Linked DNA regions of Homo sapiens. The protein of the gene in region 1 interacts with the protein of each later gene in a biochemical or structural test. Each region holds a gene or a part of one and is shown in the gene's direction. Other genes may lie near its edges.

Evidence for each region.
Region 2: the proteins of EPS15 (region 1) and AGFG1 form a complex in vitro, tested with the Homo sapiens proteins (one study listed by BioGRID).
Region 3: the proteins of EPS15 (region 1) and UBQLN3 interact in a test that uses a peptide from one of them, tested with the Homo sapiens proteins (one large-scale study listed by BioGRID and IntAct).
Region 4: the proteins of EPS15 (region 1) and MTPAP interact in a surface display test, tested with the Homo sapiens proteins (one large-scale study listed by IntAct).
Region 5: the proteins of EPS15 (region 1) and DRAM1 interact in a test that uses a peptide from one of them, tested with the Homo sapiens proteins (one large-scale study listed by BioGRID and IntAct).
Region 6: the proteins of EPS15 (region 1) and CDC40 interact in a test that uses a peptide from one of them, tested with the Homo sapiens proteins (one large-scale study listed by BioGRID and IntAct).

The regions. Positions count from the first base shown.
Region 1 is NC_000001.11:51,397,267-51,400,766, reverse strand, and holds part of EPS15 (epidermal growth factor receptor substrate 15), read left to right. Parts: intron 1-1,601; coding exon 1,602-1,735; intron 1,736-3,500. UniProt on the Homo sapiens protein: Involved in cell growth regulation. May be involved in the regulation of mitogenic signals and control of cell proliferation. Involved in the internalization of ligand-inducible receptors of the receptor tyrosine kinase (RTK) type, in particular EGFR.
Region 2 is NC_000002.12:227,517,156-227,520,655, forward strand, and holds part of AGFG1 (arf-GAP domain and FG repeat-containing protein 1), read left to right. Parts: intron 1-2,792; coding exon 2,793-2,908; intron 2,909-3,500. UniProt on the Homo sapiens protein: Required for vesicle docking or fusion during acrosome biogenesis. May play a role in RNA trafficking or localization.
Region 3 is NC_000011.10:5,507,158-5,511,084, reverse strand, and holds UBQLN3 (ubiquilin-3), read left to right. Parts: upstream 1-1,127; 5' UTR 1,128-1,211; intron 1,212-1,457; exon of another isoform or gene 1,458-1,490; 5' UTR 1,491-1,526; coding exon 1,527-3,494; 3' UTR 3,495-3,785; downstream 3,786-3,927.
Region 4 is NC_000010.11:30,339,279-30,342,778, reverse strand, and holds part of MTPAP (poly(A) RNA polymerase, mitochondrial precursor), read left to right. Parts: intron 1-1,138; coding exon 1,139-1,311; intron 1,312-2,328; coding exon 2,329-2,553; intron 2,554-3,500. UniProt on the Homo sapiens protein: Polymerase that creates the 3' poly(A) tail of mitochondrial transcripts. Can use all four nucleotides, but has higher activity with ATP and UTP (in vitro). Plays a role in replication-dependent histone mRNA degradation.
Region 5 is NC_000012.12:101,898,080-101,901,579, forward strand, and holds part of DRAM1 (DNA damage-regulated autophagy modulator protein 1), read left to right. Parts: intron 1-3,211; coding exon 3,212-3,354; intron 3,355-3,500. UniProt on the Homo sapiens protein: Lysosomal modulator of autophagy that plays a central role in p53/TP53-mediated apoptosis. Not involved in p73/TP73-mediated autophagy.
Region 6 is NC_000006.12:110,183,427-110,186,926, forward strand, and holds part of CDC40 (pre-mRNA-processing factor 17), read left to right. Parts: intron 1-3,500. UniProt on the Homo sapiens protein: Required for pre-mRNA splicing as component of the activated spliceosome. Plays an important role in embryonic brain development; this function does not require proline isomerization.

The DNA.
Region 1 (3,500 bases):
TAATGAATTGTTGCTTTACTTTTACTTCTTCTTTTTTTTTTTTTTTTTTTTTTTGGTGTTTTTTGTTTTTGAGACAGGGTCTTATTCTGTCACCCAGGCTGGAATGCAGTGGTGTGATCATGGCTCACTGCAGCCTTGACTTCCTGGGCTCAAGCAATCCTCCTGCCTCAGCCTCCTGAGTACCTAGGTCTACAGGCTCATGCCAGCATACTTGACTGATTTTTTTTTATTTTTTGTAGAGACAGGGTCTCACTGTGTTGCCGAGGTTGGTCTCGAACTCCTGGGCTCAAGCAGTCCTCCTGCCTCAGCCTCCCAAAGTGCTGCGATTACAGACAGGTGTGAGCGACTGTGCCCGATAGCTTTACTTTTTTAAAAATGACATTAGTGTTTAGACTTTGGTGCTTTAAATATTTATTCTGATTCCTCCTTACTAACTAAAGGTTTGGTGAGCATAATGATCTATACTGCTTCAGGGTTTAGAATGTAATTTTGTTTTCCTAAGATTATAGCCCACACGTGTGATTAGAGGCAGAGAATCTTGAAGAATTACTAAAACATCAGGCTTTTTGAGATATTCTTTTTCTGGGAATTTTCATTAGAATAATGCAAATCTTGTTTACCATTTAGTTTTGCATCCCAAACCTGTTCTAAACTATTGGCTGTTAGCTTTGAGCTCAGAGAGAAAAATACATTTAGAAGTTTTTATTGTGTTTTCTTTAGTTACGGTAGCGTAGAATAAGGGGACTTAAAATTGGATCCCTTGAAATTATATGTTAATTTTAAAAATAAGTTTATTAGGTGGAAGGTTCTGTATCTTTTATCAAAATTGCAAAGGAGTCTGTGAAATAAAAAGTACTCAGCTTAGATTCTACAGTATTTCAAACTGTCTTTTTGGATTTTTTTTTTGAGACAGTCTTGCTCTGTTGCCCAGGCTAGAGTACAAGTAGTGCGGTCTTGACTCACTGCAACCTCCGCCTCCCATGCTCAAGCTATTATTCTCATGCCTCAGCCTCCCGAATAGCCAGGATTACGGGCGCGCACCACCACGCCTGGCTAATTTTTGTATTTTTAGTAGAGACAGGGTTTCACTGTGTTAGCCAGGCCGGTCTTAAACTCCTGAGCTCAAGTCATCCGTCTACCTCAACCTCCCAAAGTGCTGGAATTACAGGTGTGAGCCACTGCACCTGGCCCAAACTGTCTTTTTGTTTGTTTGTTTTTGAGACAGGGTCTCACTGTCACCCAGGCTGGAGTGCAGTGGCAGATCTTTGCTCACTGCAGCCTCTGCCTCACAGGTTCAAGTGAGTCTCCCACCTCAGCCTCCCGAGTAGCTGGGACTATAGGTGCGCACCACCATGCCTGGCTAATTTTTGTGTTTTTTAGTAGAGAGGAGGTTTTGACATGTTGGGCAGGCTGGTCTTGAACTCCTGACCTCAAGTGATCTGCCTGTCTCAGCCTCCCAAAGTGGTGGGAATGCAGACGTGAGCCACTGCACCTGGCCCCAGACTGTCTTTTAATTAAGGCACTGATCATACCTTCAAGTGATGGGAAATTTAGTGCAATAATTTTTTTTTGTCTCTTATATTCGTGCCTTATTTTTTTAGATCCATTTGGTGGTGATCCTTTCAAAGGTTCAGATCCATTTGCATCAGACTGTTTCTTCAGGCAATCTACTGATCCTTTTGCCACTTCAAGCACTGACCCTTTCAGTGCAGCCAACAATAGCAGTATTACATCGGTAAGTGGGAGAATTAAAAACTGTTAAGTTAAATGGATAATAAGTGTCCTAAGCAAGTTTCTTGAAATACATAGTGATGAAAGAACCCTCATTTAGATTACTTCTAATGGACCATATAAGAATTTCAGTCTCATCCCAATTCATTTAGTTTTTGGTTCAGACTGGTATTTCATAGTTTGATTACCCACTGGAATTAACTGGAATGACTGAACGGAGTCCAAAAGTGATGTTCATCTTTCAAGAGACTAAATCTTATCCTATTGAGGATACTAAAAATGATTGGAAATTTATAAGCCAATCTTACATAAAACTTTTCTGAAATGTTTGGTATATTATTGAAATAATGAAAATTAAAAGAATTTTAGAAAAATAAAATCGTTTATGTTATTTCATAGACACATCTGGAATGTTAATTCTGCAAAGTACAAATTCTCACTAAATGTCAAGCTCTCTTGAGAATGTACATACCTACAGCAATCACTGTTTAATAACCACATGCCTGATCCAGGTACTGGTGTGTGCTTTACATTCATTGTTTCTAATCTTCACATCAATTTTGCAAAGTAGGTGTTGATATCCCTATTTTAAAAATGAGGACACTGGGACTTAGAAAAATTAACATGTTTAAGGTCCTATAGCTAGTTGCTGTTTTATCTGGAGGCTTTAAAAAAATCTTCATGGCTGGGCGCGGTGGCTCACGCCTGTAATCCCAGCACTTTGGGAGGCTGAGGTGGGCGGATCACGAGGTCAGGAGATCGAGACCATCCTGGCTAACACGGTGAAAACTCGTCTCTACTAAAAATACAAAAAATTAGCCAGGCGCGGTGGTGGGTGCCTATAGTCCCAGCTACTCAGGAGGCTGAGGCAGGAGAATGGCGTGAACCCGGGAGGCGGAGCTTGCAGTGAGCCGAGATCGCGCCACTGCACTCCAGCCTGGGTGACAGAGCGAGACTCCGTCTCAAAAAAAAAAAAAAAAATCTTCATCTTGTGGATATTTAGAAATACTCAAAGGAGAATAATGTAATGAAATATTTTAACAAGCTTCCATGCATCCATTACCCAATTTCAATAGTTAGGAATGGTTTTGCAGGTTTTTGGTTTTGCTTTTTAATTTGTATTTTGAGACTTCGTTTTTGAGACCACAGTTTCATGTCTGTAGGTAAACTGAACCTATAAAGGACCAGTTAACTGAGAAGCATTTGAAGCAAAAAATTTGTCTTCTAGTACTATTAGATTAAGAATATTTCCTTTAAAATGTAATTGATTATTTTAAAGATAATAGGTTTTGTATTATTGAAAGTTGCTTCTTTTTTGTATTCAGTAAAGAGCTGCTTGGCTAAGAACTGGTGTTTTCCATTGAATAAAAACTGGACAGATACCTTCGTGACTGAATATTTTTCGTTTCCCTGGGCTGCTGGATACTCTGTTTTCCTATAGCACTTAGTTTGCAATGTGGACCCATTTGCCAAATTCTTCTAAAATTGCTGCTACTGGAATTCTTCTCCTCTCACCTTCTTATTCTAGCCTCTCATTCTCCTATCATCTAAAGAGCAAGAAAGCTAAATTAGCTCTTCTAATTTAAAAATGAATACATTCCTCTTGTCCTGTCCCCCATGAGATTTTTCTACCATTTGTTTTACTGACTTTTATTCCCAGTTTTCTAAAGGAATATTGTCCTTGCTTTACAGCTTGTAATTTCACCATTCAAAACAAAAAACCAGATTGGCAATATAATAATAGCTGCAGTTTATCTAATTTCCTCTGT
Region 2 (3,500 bases), on another chromosome or scaffold:
TTTTCATAATGGATTGTGCCTTACTCTAGTTCTCACTCGTTTTAACTGTCACTTCCTAAATGACTTTATAGTATCTGTACTGAGCCTGGAATAGGAAGGAACCACAAGAAATATATATATAGACAGACAGACACGGAGTCTCACTCTGTCATCAGGCTGGAGTGCAGTGGCGCAATCTCGGCTCACTGCAACCTCTGACTCCCGGGTTCAAGCGATTCTCCTGCTTCAGCTTCTGGAGTAGCTGGGGTTACAGGCATGCGCCACCATGCCCAGCTATTTGTTTTTTCTGTATTTTTAGTAGAGGTGGGGTTTCACCATGTTGGCCATGATGGTCTCGATCTCCTGACCTCATGATCCGCCTGCCTTGGCCTCCCATAGTGCTGGGATTACAGGCGTGAGCCACCACGCCCGACCCACAAGAAATGTTTTGAAACAGATTTGGGGACATGATAGGAAAGGAGAAGGGCAAGTCCTTTCTCCTAACCTTTCTCTTATTTCTCCCATACCCAGTTCAGTGAGCAGGTAAGATTGAGAAGTACGCTTTTCCTTCCCTGATTTCTTAAATACTTGTCAGGGTTTTTGAAACCAGATACTATGCTCTTTTCATAGTGTCGTAATTGCTTATTCTTTAGAATAATGTATTTTGGAAACTCGTGGACTTGTTTTTGATAATTTTGCTGAGGAATAGTTGATAACTTGGATATTTAAACTGATAACGTGTACATACTTAAAGTGTACAATTTGATGAGTTTTGACATTTGTATGTATCATGAAACCACTACCACAATAACAAGATAGCATATATTTTCATTGTGCAACCCTTTGTAATGAATCCACTGATCTGCTTTTCATCGCTGTAGACTGGTTTACATTAAAAATTTAAATGAATGGAAATATGCAGTATATACGTTTTGGTGGGGGGGTGCACATGTTTCTTTCAGCATAATCTTGAGGTTTATTCATGTTTCTTGTATTAATGGTTTTCTCCTTTTAATTGCTGAATAATGTTCTTCTTTGGATATTCTCCCATTTGTTTATTCACTTGTTTATGAACAATTGGGTGATTTCCAGTTTGGGGTTATTATCAGTAAAGCTGCTACAAATATTTATGTACAGTCTGAGTGTGGAAAAGTGCTTTTATTTTTCTTGAATAAATACCTAGAAGTAGAATGGCTACATCATATGCTAGGTCTATGTTTAACTCTTGAGAAACTGCCAAATGTTTTCCAAAGTGCTTACACCATTTTACATTCTAAAGAATTCCGGTTGTTCCACATTGTTACCAACACATGATGCAGTCACACTTTGTTTTCGGCTTTTCTAGTAGTATATGCATGTCTGTCTTGTGGAGTCTCAGTGTCTTTTTTTTTTTTTTTTTTTTTTTAAAGACAGAGTTTTGCTCTTGTCGCCCAGGCTGGAGTGCAATGACATGATCTTGGCTCACTGCAACCTCCCCTTCCTGGGTTCAAGCCATTCTTCTGACTCAGCCTCCTGAGTAGCTGGGATTACAGGCATGCACCACTACGCCTGGCTAATTTTTTTGTATTTTTAGTAGAGATGGGGTTTCACCATTTTGGCCAGTCTAGTCCCGAACTCCTGACCTCAGGTGATCCGCCTGCACCCGGCCTCAGTGTCATTTTAATTTGCATTTTATGCATGACTAATGATAGTGGGCTGCTGATATCTTTGGTGAAGTGTTTGTTCAGACCTTTTGCCCCCGCTTTAAACAAGTGTTGGCTGGGCATGGTGGCTCGCGCCTGTAATCCCAGCACTTTGGGAGGCTGAGGCGGGCAGATCGCTTGAGCTCATGAGTTCGAGACCAGCCTGGGCAACATGGTGAAACACCATCTCTACAAAAAATACAAAAAATTAGCCACCTGTGGTGCTGCACTCCTGTAGTCCCAGCTTACTCAGGAGGCTGAAGTGGGAGGATGGCTTGAGCCTGGGAGGCAATAAGCTGAGATTGCACCACTGCACTCCATCCTGGGTGATAGAGACAGACCTTTTCTCAAACAAACAAAAACCAAAACAAGTGTTGGGTTATCTGTCTTTTATAATTGAGTTGTAGGAATTCTTTATATATTCCAGTTTCAAGTTCTTATACATTTTACAAATACTTTTGATCAGTTGGTGTCTTGATTTTTGTACTTTTTAAGTTTTTTTGAAGAATAGTTTTTTATTTTGATGAAGTCTGCTTTATCAGTTTTTCTCTTTATAGTTCTTTTTGTGCTATTTTATTTCATTTCTCTTTTGGTTTTTCTGAAAGTTAAATATCTCAGATTCTCATTTTTTAGCTATTGGACCAAAAATGCATAGGAGACAGCTATAAAGCTAATAGTGTGTTTGCCTTATATTTGTGTTTATTGTTACAATTTTAAAGTGTTTATGATTCTAGTATTTTTGTTTGTTCTTTTTGGTTTTTTAGACTTGCTAAAGGGCCTGTGAAATAGCCATTGGTTCAGTTCCTTTGTTTTGTAAGGGAACTGAGCAGGTTACATGACTTTGCTAATGGTGAAGTTTATGATTATGCCAAGACTGAAAAGACCCCAGGTCCTCTGAAATCCCACTTCACTCTTCATTTCCCCTTTTTAATGATTTTGTTGCTAAAATTTTACTGCATACTGCAACATATTAAAAATAAATTTAGTTCCTGTTTATTAGTATCCTCATTGAAAGCATATTATTAAAATTATTATGTAGATTAGCTTCCTGAAAGAATCATAGTATCCCCTTAAAATTTCATTAAGTGAAGATGTTGAATTTAACATATATTTTTTTAATTCTTTCCAAAGGTCTGTAAACAGATTTGGCTAGGATTATTTGATGATAGATCTTCAGCAATTCCAGACTTCAGGGATCCACAAAAAGTGAAAGAGTTTCTACAAGAAAAGTATGAAAAGAAAAGATGGTGAGTGAAGAGTTTGTATGTAGAATAAAGCCTCCCCAAATCACATATTAACTATGGGTAAGGTTAGTCTGACACAATGAAGGATAAAAGACAGACAGTGAGAACTAGATAGGTATATAATTCATTATCCCTTGGCTTTTTGTTGGTTTGGTTTCTGAAAACCTTTACTTCTACTTTATCTTAACTCATCTGTTCCTGGCAGCAGGCTTTTTGTTGTAATAATTACCAGGAAAGTTAGGGATTCTTCCTTCTAATCATTCCCTATCTCTGTTAGCTTCTTTAAATATGTTTTGCCCTACAAAGCCTCCGTTCTTAAAAATCATTAATTTAGCAAGTATTTACTGAGTCATATCTTTTTTTAATTTATTGAGTTTCATCTTCTGTATACTAGGCACTATGCTAAAGCTCTGGTGTAGTAATCCATCTACTTAATTGTCTGTTGTAGCCTTTGCTCAAAATATTTTTTCTTTTGACCTAAGAAATCAGTTTACTTTCTGGTTAAGAAGGGAGCATTTACTTTTCCCTAACTAAATCTATCAGATGTTAATTTTTAAAAATTAATTCCAACAGGTTGTACATATAGCTAGTAAGC
Region 3 (3,927 bases), on another chromosome or scaffold:
CAGAATATAAACATCATTACACTATTCTTAAGAAAAAAATCTAAAAAGCCTTTAACCCCACATCCCCACATAGCCGTCATCCCCTTTCTTGCATTTAAAATGCCCTAACTGGATCTACTTTTTCCCAAACCATTTGCTTTTAAACACACTCTGATTAGGCTTCCTGCCTCTACTATCCTTCCAAAGCTAGTCTCATCATGGTCTCCAATTCTTTATTTTTTCAAATCCAGTGGCCAATTCTCAATCCTCATCCTCCTGACCTAGCAGCATCATTTCACATGATTGGTTACTCTCTCCTTTTTGAAACTCTTCTTCCTTTGGCCTTTCTCTTTTCTCTCTCTTTTTTTCTACCTTACTCTTTTATTTTTTCTCCGTTTCCTTTGCCAAATTCTTCTGATCTTCCAGATTTCTAAATGTTATACAGCCACAAAACTCAGATTTTAAAATCTCTATCATTTTGCCTGTATGCACTAACTAGCTAATCTAAACCAGTCCATGATGTTAAGTACCCTTTGAATGCTAATAAACTCTGGACTTATAATATTAAACTACAATACTACATCTCCATTTGTATGTAAAATAGACATCTCAAATGTATGTAAAACTGTTTAACAACCTGCTAATTTAGACAAAGTGCTTATTCCCAATCTTTGTCTTAGTAAATATTCAATCCTTTGAGTTCCTTTGGGGATAACAATTTCTTTTAAAGTAAAAAAAAAGTTATCTCATGCTTGACTCCTCCCTTATACCCCAAATCCTATCCATCAGCGAATCAATACTTTGAAAATACGTAAAGAATTCATGGTTAATGTTGAATAAGACAGAAAACTGGGACATAGGATACCAGGAAGAAGACCCTGGACCAGGAAGTAGCTGAATGTGGGTCTGAATGGAGACAGAGAGGACTGAGAGATGTTTTATAACATTCCAATCCCAGTCTGAGCCTCCACAGAAGTCTCCACAGGAAGGCACTTGAGGTGGAGGAAGTAGAAGTGGTAAAAGATGGGAGAGCAAGAGTTCCCAGGGATCCCGAGCTCCTTAGAGAAGTCTCAAGAATCTTCTCTGTGTGAGGCTGTGACGTCAGCACTGAGGTCACAGAAGGGACCTGATAGTGCGGGTTCTGGCCCAGAAGGCCTCAGGGGTGGCTGTGTAGCAAGATGAGGGAGGTTTGGAGCCCTGCATAAAGAGAAGGACGGGACCACAGCTGACTGGTATGTACACCCCAGCTGGGCCCTTCCTTCTACCTTTGTCCCTGTATTCATCAACTACAGACCTCTTTCCCAGGGCCCTGCATTTCCCTCCCCTGATTCCAACATATCTCAATCCCGCAATCTTCCTAAAGCATCCTGCCCCAGAAACCTCATGGCCCCTTTCATGTAGACCCTGCAGATTTCCCTATCCTGATATTCAAGACCCTTTTCATACTCACCCTTCCTACTTTTGCCATTGCCTGAAAGGATGATCTTGGTCTCCAATCCCCATGCCCCTAGCTGTGTCCCCACAGATCTGGGCCTCCTGCTGCCACCATGGCCAAAGGTGGAGAAGCCCTGCCACAGGGCAGCCCAGCACCAGTCCAGGATCCCCACCTCATCAAGGTGACAGTGAAGACGCCCAAAGACAAGGAGGATTTCTCAGTTACAGACACATGCACTATCCAGCAGCTGAAGGAAGAGATATCTCAGCGCTTTAAGGCCCACCCCGATCAGCTTGTTCTAATCTTTGCTGGCAAAATCCTCAAGGATCCTGACTCACTGGCACAGTGTGGAGTGCGAGATGGCCTCACTGTCCACCTGGTCATCAAGAGGCAGCACCGTGCCATGGGCAATGAGTGCCCAGCTGCCTCTGTCCCTACCCAGGGCCCAAGTCCTGGATCACTCCCTCAGCCAAGCTCCATTTACCCAGCAGATGGGCCCCCTGCCTTTAGCTTAGGTCTCCTCACAGGCCTCAGTAGGCTGGGCTTGGCCTATCGTGGCTTCCCTGACCAGCCAAGCTCCCTGATGCGGCAGCATGTGTCTGTGCCTGAGTTTGTGACTCAGCTCATTGATGACCCCTTCATCCCGGGTCTGCTGTCCAACACAGGCCTAGTACGCCAGCTGGTTCTTGACAACCCCCATATGCAGCAGCTGATCCAGCACAACCCTGAGATTGGGCATATTCTTAACAACCCGGAAATTATGCGGCAGACACTGGAGTTTTTACGTAACCCTGCCATGATGCAGGAGATGATACGTAGCCAGGACCGGGTGCTCAGTAACTTGGAGAGCATTCCTGGTGGCTACAATGTGCTTTGCACTATGTACACAGATATTATGGACCCAATGCTTAACGCAGTCCAGGAGCAGTTTGGCGGCAATCCCTTTGCCACTGCCACTACTGATAATGCCACCACCACCACCAGCCAACCTTCAAGGATGGAGAATTGTGACCCTCTCCCCAACCCCTGGACTTCCACACATGGAGGCTCAGGTAGCAGGCAAGGAAGGCAGGATGGGGATCAGGATGCACCTGACATTAGAAATAGGTTTCCAAACTTTCTGGGTATTATAAGGCTCTATGACTATCTCCAGCAATTACACGAGAACCCCCAGTCCCTAGGAACTTATCTACAGGGGACTGCATCTGCCCTCAGCCAAAGCCAGGAACCACCACCATCAGTAAACAGAGTTCCCCCATCGTCACCCTCATCTCAGGAGCCTGGGTCAGGCCAGCCTCTCCCCGAGGAGTCAGTAGCAATCAAGGGAAGGTCCTCCTGCCCAGCTTTCCTGAGATACCCCACAGAGAACAGTACTGGACAAGGTGGAGACCAAGATGGTGCAGGGAAAAGCTCTACTGGACATAGCACAAACTTGCCTGATCTTGTCTCGGGGCTGGGAGATTCTGCCAACAGGGTTCCATTTGCTCCCTTATCTTTTTCCCCCACGGCAGCCATTCCTGGAATCCCTGAGCCTCCCTGGCTGCCATCCCCGGCTTATCCAAGATCTCTGAGGCCAGATGGCATGAATCCAGCTCCACAGTTACAGGATGAGATACAACCACAGCTGCCACTGCTGATGCACCTTCAGGCAGCCATGGCAAACCCCCGTGCCCTGCAAGCCCTGCGGCAGATTGAGCAGGGTCTACAGGTCCTAGCTACTGAAGCACCTCGCCTCCTACTCTGGTTCATGCCTTGCCTAGCAGGGACGGGTAGTGTGGCAGGAGGTATAGAGTCTAGAGAAGATCCCCTTATGTCTGAGGATCCTCTCCCAAATCCACCTCCTGAGGTGTTCCCAGCACTGGACTCTGCAGAGCTGGGCTTCCTTTCCCCTCCCTTTCTCCATATGCTGCAAGATTTAGTTAGTACAAATCCCCAGCAGCTGCAGCCTGAGGCTCACTTTCAGGTGCAGCTGGAGCAACTGCGGTCCATGGGCTTTCTGAATCGTGAAGCCAATCTTCAGGCCCTCATTGCTACGGGGGGCGACGTGGATGCTGCTGTGGAGAAGCTGAGACAGTCGTAGGAGCCTTATTCATTCAAACCATACGTTTTCCTCTGTGCCTTTTTCCCATATCCTAGTTCCCTAGCTCTCCCATTTTTGAATACAGCTGCATTATAAACCAAATTTACTATGAAGTCCTTTGCTGTGGAGGCAATGTTGTTCCAGAGTCAACGAGGAAGACTAATGGCCAAAACATAGTGGAGGTGCTGTGTGTGAGTCAACCACTTGTACCACTATACCACTGGGGGGCCCCAGTCTAAGCTCTGCTTATGCCTATCTTGAGATGCAATTACACCCAATTTCCAATGTGAACTCTTGCCTGAGTCTCATTCATGTGGGCTATGAGAAAAAGGATGGATATGGGAGAAGAAGTAGTGATAAGGGCTGTCTCTACATGGATGGAAGGACTTGGAGGGAAACTAAAAGGTCTGAAGTTAGAAGACTCACAGGTATG
Region 4 (3,500 bases), on another chromosome or scaffold:
TAGTTGGTAACTCACTGTTAATTGTTTGAGCCAGATCAAGACCCTTGAGAAAGAAAAATGCCTTAATAGCTTATGTCAAAACACCGAATTTCCAAACTCATTGTCTCATTACACTCAGGCTTGTAATAATTTCTTTTAGGCTTTGGAATGTTACAATTTGCACAATTTTGTGTGTGCATATTTGTACAAGTATTAAATAAGTGATTTTAGTTTCCTGGTTTTTTTTTTTTTTTTTGTGGAACTCCGTTTTCAGCACTTTGCATCAAGCATAGTAAATCAAAACAGAGAAAGTGGGCAGTTTTAATAGTAGTCATGGGAGAGTAGTCAAACGAACACTGAAAGTGCAGTAATTCCACCTCATCCATGTTTTCACTGTCCACAGTTTCGGTTCCTCACAGTCAACTGTGGTCCACAAATAGGTGAGCACAGTACAATATGATATTTTGAGAGAGAGAGAGACCACATTCATATAACTTTTATTACAGTATATTAGAATTGTTCTATTTCATTATTAGTTGTTGTTAATCTCTGTCTCTTTTTTTTGAGACAGAGTCTCGCTCTGTTGCCCAGGATGGAGTGCAGTGGTGCAATCTCAGCTCACTGCAACGTCTGCCACCTGGTTTCAAGTGATTCTCCTGTTTCAGCCTCCCAAGTAGCTGGGACTACAGGCGCGCGCCACCATGCCTGGCTAATTTTTGTATTTTTAGTACAGATGAGGTTTCACCATGGTCAGGCTGATCTCGAACTCCTGGCCTCAGGTGATCCACCCACCTCAGCCTCCCAAAGTTCTGGTATTACAGGCATGAGCCACCAAGCCCGGCCCGTTGTTATTAATCTCTTACTGTGCCTAATTTATAAATTAAGCCTTATCATAGCAATGTATGTGTAGGATAAAACATTGTATATATAGGGCTTGGTAATATCTGAGGTTTTAAGCATTTACAGGCATCTTGGATCATAACCCCTGTGGGTAATGGGGAGACTACTGTAGTATAGTTTAACCCTTATAAAGGAAGAGAAAAAATAGATTAGGTGAAGTTGGTTTTAGTCATATATGAAGTCTTTAAACACCTTATCAAAATATTTTTAAAATTTTGTGTGTGTGCGTGTGGTGGAAATGTTTTTGTCTCGTTCATAGGCTTTGAAGACAAGATTCCCAAAAGGAGATTCTCTGAGATGCAAAATGAAAGACGAGAACAGGCACAGCGGACTGTTTTAATACATTGCCCAGAGAAAATCAGTGAAAACAAGTTTCTTAAATATTTATCCCAATTTGGACCTATTAATAATCATTTCTTCTATGAAAGCTTTGTAAGTATTTGAAAAACAATCTAACTTAACGTTTATGCTTTTCAAGGGTGGAGGTCTCCATTAGTTGTTTTTTGCTGTTGCTTTTTGCAATATGGTAGGTAGGTTCTCTTTGATATACTGCATCTTCTTTATCTAGATTTCTTTAATGAGTTTTGTTTTTGATATGGGATTCTTATAGCGGTATTTTAGGATTATAAGTCATTTATGACTGATTTCATTATTTGAATGCTTAATTTTATTTTTTAAGAGACGGGGTCCAACTATGTGGCCTATGCTGGAGTGCAGTGGCTGTTGGCAGGTACGATCATATTGCACTACAGCCTCGACTCCTAGGCTCGGGTGATCCTTCTGCCTCTGGAGTAGCTGGGACTACAGTCCTGCACCACCACACCCAGCTTGAATACTTTAGATAGTCTCTTTAACTTGCGGATGAAGGCCAGTGGGAGGGGATCTTTGTTTTGCCTTTGGATTTTTCTGCTTCATCATTCTTTTCAGTCTTTTCAGCTTCTCTTAACTAACATTGTTTTAAGGTTCCGTTTCTTTTTTTTTGACATGGAGTCTCACTCTGTTGCCCAGGCTGGAGTGCAGTGGCATGATCTTGGGTCATTGCAACCTCCGTCTCTTGGGTTCAAGCGATTCTCCTGCCTCAGCCTTCCAAGTAGCTGGACTTACAGACACCTGCCACCACGCCTGGCTAATTTTTGTATTTTTAGTAGAGGCGAGGTTTCACCATGTTGGCCAGGCTGGTCTTGAACTCTTGACCTCAGGTGATCTGCCCACCTCCATGTCCCAAAGTGCTGGGATTACAAGCGTGAGCCACTGCGCCCGGCCCAGTGTTCCTTTTCTTCATCTACTTAAATTGAATAAAATTAATGCTATGTTAGAATCATATCATTTGTAAATTTTAAAGACTTGATATTTTGTAGCATTATGATAATTGTTTTAATATATGAGCTAAAATAGTATGTTAGATATATCGTGAAATGTGTTCTGTTTTTTCTTATGTTTTTGGTATAGGGTCTCTATGCTGTCGTAGAATTTTGCCAAAAGGAAAGCATAGGTTCACTGCAGAATGGGACTCATACTCCAAGCACGGCCATGGAGACTGCAATTCCATTCAGATCACGTTTCTTCAATCTGAAGTTGAAAAACCAGACTTCTGAACGGTCACGCGTACGGTCAAGTAATCAGTTGCCACGTTCAAACAAGCAGCTTTTTGAATTACTTTGTTATGCAGAAAGTGTAAGTTTTTAGGTGTACCTCAACTTTTAGAACTATGTATTTTTTTATGAACAATAAAGATTCCTGTAAAATGTTCAAGCTACATTATTGTTTAATGGGTATAGATCTTCAGTTTTACAAGGTGAAAAGAGTTACGGAGATGAATCGTGGTGGTGGATGCATAATGAGATGAAGGAAAGTTTTTTTCTATTTCTAGCTTTCTAAGAATGTCGTCATGCTCAACACATTGAGTAGATGTTGAGTTTTGACATTTGAGATGGTATTGATGACTGGCATATGGTCTTGAGATTGTATATGGTTCCTAATGTCTTTTTCTTTCCCCTCCTAATGTCTTAACGTAGTGAATTGTAGATTCACTGTAGATTTCCTCATGTCAAGTCATTCTTGCATTCACAGAATAAACCCTACTTAGTCAAGGTGTATTTACAAAAATGCATTATTACATTTGTCGTGCTAATATTTTTATTACAATTTTAATATCTCTATAAATAAATGGGATTGCTTTTAAAAATTCAAACTACAGGATATGTTGAATGAAAAGTGATAGTAATCCTTGTCTGCTCCTTCCCCGCCATGCCCCATTTGTACTTACAGGTAACCACATTCTTCTGAAGTTTTCGGCCTTTTGAACAGTTTAGGTTTTCTTTCTCTTTCCAGCATAATGACATAAAATTGTACATGGTTTTCTGTCAATTTTAAAATGTCTTCTTTCTGATTCTCTCTCTCTTTTTTTTTTTTTTTTTTTGAGATGGAGTCTCGCTCTTGCCCAGGCTGGAGTGCAGTGGCATGATCTTGGCTTACTGCAACTGCTCCCCGATTCAAGCAATTCTCATGCCTCAGCTGCCCAAGTAGCTGGGACTACAGGTGTGCACCACCACACCCAGCTAACTTTTGTATTTTTAGTAGTGACGGAGTTTCGCCACTTTGGCCAGGCTGGTCTCGAACTC
Region 5 (3,500 bases), on another chromosome or scaffold:
GCGTGATCACGGCTCACTGCAGCCTCAACCTGCCAGGCTCAAGCAGTCCTCCCACCTCAGCCTCCGGAGTAGCTGGTACTACAGGTGCACACCACCACGCCCAGCTAATTTTTTGTAGTTTTTTGTAGAGATGGGGTTTCACCATGTTGCCAGGCTGGCCTTGAGCTCCCGGGCTTCAGTGATCCACCTGCCTTGGCCTCTCAAAGTGCTGAACTTATAGGTGTGAGCCACTGCACACGGCCTTGTGTATAATTTTTTTAAAAGCACAATCTTTGCAGCTAGATTTTTGTCCTATTTTGAGAAACTGAAGTTAAAAGATATAAAAAATTATGGCTTTATTAGAGAACTATACTTTAATTAGTAATTTGTAACAGGATTTGCTGTAGGTGGTTTTAAATACCAAACTTCTGGAACGGATTTTAAGTGCAATTTAGTTTTTAAAAGTGTTGATTTATGGTCAAGACACTTATGTAAGCCAAAGACACCCAATGCGTAAGCTAAGTTTCTCAAAGTGTATTCTGAAGGCAAGCTGATGAAAAGTCACCTGGAGTTCTCGTAAAATGCAGGTTCCTGGGCCATGCTACTCAACCAGAACCTTTGGGAGTGTGGGTTCCTGAAGATGTGTTGTAAACAAGCACTCTAGGGGACTTGGTTTCTCACTAAAGTTTGAGGACCATTGACAAAGGCATTATCTTACCTGTTAGAGAAAGGGGACAGGTGGAGCAAGGAATAGTATGATTTTTCTTTTCAGTTCCTCAGATGTACCTAAGATGCAGATGATAGGGTGCAACCTTGTCATAAGCCAATTAATGTAATGCATATTAATTACAACTATTGTATAATTAATGTAAAGCTCAGTCTTCTATAAGGTGATTCAAGTATATAGATATCAGATGTGGGGCATTTTCTCTTAGTCCTTCTATAATCTCCCCCCAAACAATCAAGTGTTTGCCAAGGGCCTATCTTGTAACCAACGCTTTCTGTTCCTCTCTACTGGTACAGTGTGAGAAGGGACAGTGATGCTGACCCTACTTAGTGACTTGGCATTTTGGAATTTGTTCATCCTACTTGGTAGCAGGAAAGTTTCACCGCATCACCATTTGTAGTCCTCCTAAAGTTTTGGAGGTGAGCAAGGGGAAGTAGCAATATGGAGTCAGTCAATCCCAGTGCCCTCTTACACCATCCTTGCCAAGAATCCAGACTTGGAAAACAGAGAGATTATTTTATCACAGCAAGTGATAAATACGGCTTTTGCTTCTGAATAAAGCAGAAACTGACAAATATATTCATTTGAAATAGTCTATGTGAGCTCATGCCTGTAATTCTAGCATTTTGGGAGGCTGAAGCAGGAGGATCTGTTGAGCCCAGGAGTTCAAGACCAGCCTGGGCAATGTAGTGAGATCTCATCTCTACAAAAAGTTAAAAAAGAAAGAAAGAAAGAAAAAAGAAGTTAGCTGGGTGTGGTGATGTGTGCCTGTAGTTCCAGCTACTTGGAAGGATAAAGTGGAAGAATTGCCTGAGCCCAGGAGGTCAAGGCTGCAGTGAACCATGACTGTGCCGCTGCACTCCCACCCAGGTGACAGAGCAAGTCCCTGTCTCCACAAAAAAAAAAAAAAAAAAAGATTTATGATAAGTTATTAGTTTTTAGCCTGCTTTTTAAAAATTCAGGAATAGATTATGGCCGTCATACTATGTAAATATATACACATCTACTTTATCCTTTCCACACATGCATGATATCTTTCACAAGGATGTATTATCATTTATTTAATCAGTTCCCTATTGTCCAACATTTAGGCTATTTCTGGTATTTTGTAATTCTAATGTTGAAGTGAACATCTTTTAAATATATCTTTGCATATTTGTGTGAGTTTTTCTATAAGATAAATTTGCTGAGTTAAAGGGAATATGTATCTAAAATTATGGTAGCTATTTATTTATTCAACATTTACTAAGTATGTACTATATGATAGGGTTTGTGCTTGTTTATGACTTAGTGTTGAGTTTACAACAGCCAACAAAACAGACAAGAGCCCTGCTCTCATGGAGGCTACATTTTATTGCCAAATTACAACAAATGGTATTTGGTTAATTGACTAGCTATTTGGAAAAACATACCTTTACTATCCTCCTCACATCATACACAAAAACCAATTGCAATTTAATAGACATGAAAAGCAAAACTATGCAATAATTAAATTACAGGAGAATATTTTTTAAACCTTGGAATAGAAACACAAAACGCAGAAGAATTGATAGATATGAGTAGATTAAAAATTAAAACTTTCAAATGATGTAAGATACAAGATACAATGTTAAAAGACAAATAGCAGAGCAGAAGAAAATTTGTAATATTTATAGCAGATAATAGACTAATGGACATAATGTGTAAAAAGTAACTACAAATTAGATATCGACAAGCCCAAGAGAAGAATAAAAAGAAAATTGTAAACATGCATTTCTCAGAAGAAGAAATGCAAATGACCAGTAGATATACTGAAAGTTGCTAAATCTTGCTAATGATCAGAGAAATGCAAACTAACCCAACAGGTTGAATTTTCATTTATTAGACTGACAGAATTAAAAAGGCAAGGGCATACACAATTGCTCGCAAATTCTGCTGGTGGGAGTCTAAATCGTCAACGGGCTGGAGCAATTTGGAGGTGTTTCTAATTGTGCATGGTTTTTTGACCCAGTAATATTACTTCTAGGAACTGGTCTTTCAGAAACCCAAAGATTTATATACAAGGATATTCATGGCGTGTTGTTTGTAGCAGGAAAAACATGGAAACAATGTAGAAATTCATTCTTAGGAGAATGAGGAATAAATATAGTATCTCATACCACAGACCATGATAAGATCCCTGAAAACAATGAAGTAGATCTGTTTGTACTTGCTTGAAAAGATCTCCATGGTACACTGTTAAATGGAAAAAGCAAGTCACAGAGTAATACATGTACTATAATAGCATTTACATGAAAAGGACAACAGCCAAGGGGTGTGTGTGTGTGTGTGTGTGTGTGTGTGTGTGTGTGTGTGTGTGTCTGTACATGCTGGGGAGAGAGTAAGATGGAGTCAGGAGGGACAGGGGTGGGAAAGTGGGGAGACTTGCAATCAGTACATTTTTAAAAAGTGATACAAAGCTGCTCCTGTTTTTCATCCTAAAGACATCAAATTATGAACATTCATCAAAGTTCTCTTCTTTTTCAGGTGCAGCCACGATGTATACAAGATACAAAATAGTACAGAAGCAAAATCAAACCTGCTATTTCAGCACTCCTGTTTTTAACTTGGTGTCTTTAGTGCTTGGATTGGTGGGATGTTTCGGAATGGGCATTGTCGCCAATTTTCAGGTATAATCTGGAGCTTTTTCAGTTATGAGGAGTGGTGGAGTGTATGTGTCTGAAGAGAGCAGCAGAAATGCAAGAGGCACACTTATGCCATTATAGCCATTAAATGCTTGATGAGTTTACAATAAGTGGGTTAGTTTGCTTTTTAG
Region 6 (3,500 bases), on another chromosome or scaffold:
GAGCTCACTTAGTGCAATCACGAATAAATAAGGGAACCCAGGAGGAAAGGCTGCGTAAGGTACCAGAAGTCCATTAGAGGTAGAGCTGGGGCTAGTCCACCCAGTGGTCTGGGTTCTATGAGAGCGTAGAGGGCATTGCTCATTGTTGGTTTATGAACCAACACTTGTTTATATGAAGGGAAAACAAACTTACACATAGTAAATATAATGATTGCAAATGATTGGAAAATTGGAAAATGACCAAGGGAGATGTGAAGCATGCAAATATATTCATCTGTAGTTGACTAATTGTATTATGATTAATAGCAAGCATTTTGGCAGAGAATACATTTTTGCAGCGTTTTTAATCTATGTTTTTTCCGAGCTGTTTCCTGCAGTTGAGTATCTTTTAATATGTTATTGGTGATTTAATTTTTTTTTCTTTGGAAGCAACTATTGGGTTGTCATTTCCTTTTGATTTTTAGAAGACCTTTACATATTCTGGATACTATCCTTTGTCAATTGTGTGTGTTGCAAATTTTTTTTCTTTTGTGACTTGTCTTCTCACTTTTCCCTGTTGTTTACAAACAATTATTTATGTAGTCTGTGCTTGTCAAATTATTCCTTTATGTATCGGGTTCCTGTTGCTTGTTTGAGAAATCCTTAACTCATAGTCATGAAAATATTCTCTTGTATTATCTCTTGAAAGCTTTTCACATTTAAGTCATTAATCCATATGAAATTAACTTTTGTCTATAGTGCGAACATTCTTAATAATATGGCTTGATAGGTGATAGGGCAGTTCCCTTGCCCTTTTTTGTTGGCTCTTCTTGGCCCTGTAATTCTATATACAGTTTAGAATTAAGTTGGAAAGTTCTGCTAATACCCAGTTGGGATTTTGTTTGGGAGTACATTGAGTCATAGGTCAACTTGGAGATAATGTTATGTCCGTTCATTTGTTTAGGCCTTTTTTTAGTTTTGTTTTTTTTTTTCTCCCAAAGTTTGTAATTGTCTCTGTATCAAAATCTTGTACAGTTTTATTGGAGGTATTTCTCGGTGGATCTTATTTTTATGCTGTTAATAAACAGTATTGTATTTTTCATTTATTTAACTTTCTAACTTAACTACTATGTAAGTACTTTCTACTACTTACATAGCCATATCAGCTGCAAATATGACAGTATTTTTTCTTTCTTTTAATCATTATTTCTTTTATTTATTGTTCTTGCCTTGCCATGCTTACTACCGCCTCCAGGAAGATCTAAAATAAAAATAAAAAGGATGTACCAGGCAAATTTTAACCAAGAAAAAGCTAGCACTGTTTGTGTTAACATCAATAAAAATAGACTTTAAAGCAGAAAGCATTACTGGAGACAAAAGAGTCACTTCATCATGATAGAAGGTTCAGTTCACAAAGAGATATAAAACAATGTAAGCTCAAAATATTTCAGCAAAAATTGACAGAACTACAAAGAGAAATGGACAAATATACAATTACAGTGAGAGATTTTTATATCTCTCAATAATTGATAGAACAAGTAAAAACATATCAGTAATGATACAGAATATGTGAACAACAAAATTAGTAAACTGCATCTAAAGGTCTTAGGGAATATGGCACTTAGCAACACAGAATGTTGTTTTCAGGCACTGGAAACATTTTGAAACATTGAAACGTAATGAAACATTTTTTAAATGACCGTGTGCTAGACCAGGGATTGGCAAACTTCAGTAAAGGGCCAGACAGTAAATATTTCAGGCTGTGCTGGCCCCATGTAGTTTCTGTCACTTCTTTCTTTCTCTCTTTCACCCTTTCTTTTTCTTCATCTTTTTTTCTTTTTTTTTTTTTTTTTTGGAGACGGAGTCTCGCTCTGTCGCCCAGGCTGGAGTGCAGTGGCGGGATCTCGGCTCACTGCAAGCTCCGCCTCCCGGGTTCACGCCATTCTCCTGCCTCAGCCTCCCAAGTAGCTGGGACTACAGGCGCCCGCCACTACGCCCGGCTAATTTTTTGTATTTTTAGTAGAGACGGGGTTTCACCGTTTTAGCCGGGATGGTCTCGATCTCCTGACCTCGTGATCCGCCCGCCTCGGCCTCCCAAAGTGCTGGATCTTTTTTTCTTAACCCTTTAAAGATACAAATACCATCCTTAGCTTGTTGGTACAAAAAAGCAGACCGTGGCCTGGATTTGGCCCACACACTGTAGTTAGCCACCCCTGAACTGGAACATAAAATTAGTCTCAACAGATTTAAAATCTTGTTACTGTATTCTCTGACCACAGTGCACCTAAGCTAGAAACTAACCACAAAAAGATAGCTATAAAATTTCCGTATTTGAAAATTGTGAAATTGCACTTCTAAGCAACTATACATCAGAACATGTGAGGTGCAGCCATGGCAATTTTTTTAAAAGTATAGTCATAAACACATATCACAGAAAAAAAGAAAGGCAGAAAGTTAGTATGCTAGGCATCCATTCTTTTGGATTTTTAAAATCATTACATTATCTCCCTGTGCTTGTTTTAAGTCATGCAGTCAGTTTCTATTCTTTAAGTGGTTACCCCTAGAAAGCACAGCACATTCGATCAGTACTTTCACCTTCTACTGAGCAATGCGAGAACCTTAGAACCCTTGAATTTTATTCACATCCCCTGTACTCCTACTTTAGCTGTTGTTGTCTGGTATAATACATGCACTTACATATACACACACATCCTCCACAAGATGATGGTGAATGATGATGATTCTTACATCTCATATGCAAGATACCACTTTCTGTCTTTAGAATGTCCTTTAGTGAGGATTGACTGGTGGCAAATGCTTTCAGTTTTAGTTTGTCTTTTAAAAAGTTTTGGCTGGGCGAGGTGGGCAGATCCCCTGAGCCCAGGAGTTCCAGAGCAACATGGAGAGACCCTGTCTCTAGAAAAAATACAAAAATTAGCTGGGTGTGTTGGTGTGTGCTTCCCAGCTACTTGGGAGGCTAAGGTAGGGGGATCGCTGGAGCCAAAGAGGCAGAGGTTGCAGTGAGCCAGAATCACGCCACTGCACTCCAGCCTGGGAGACAGAGTAAGACCCTGTCTCATAAATAAATAAATAAATAAATAAATACATAAAATGCTTTCATTTAACTGTATTTCTCGAAGGATATTTTCACTGGGTTGTTTCCTTAGCTGGCAGTTTTCTCTCAGCACTTTTAAGATATTCTACTGTCTTCTGATTTTCATTGTTACTGATAAATCAGCTGTTGGTGTAGCTGTTTCCCTTTGAAAGTGATTTTCTTTTTTCTTTTGACACCTTTTAAGACCCGCACCCCATTTTTTTGAGATATGGTTTCATTCTTTAGTTTTATTATAGGATACACATGTGTAGATTTCTTTTTATTTTTTCTGTTCAGAATTTGTTGGATTTCTTTAATTGTGGATCAATTGGTTTGGAATGTGGACCTTTGGACATTTCTTAGCAGTTGTCAGTTCTTATCACTTCACATATTATTTTAGTCCCATTCTCCTCTTCTGGAACGCCAA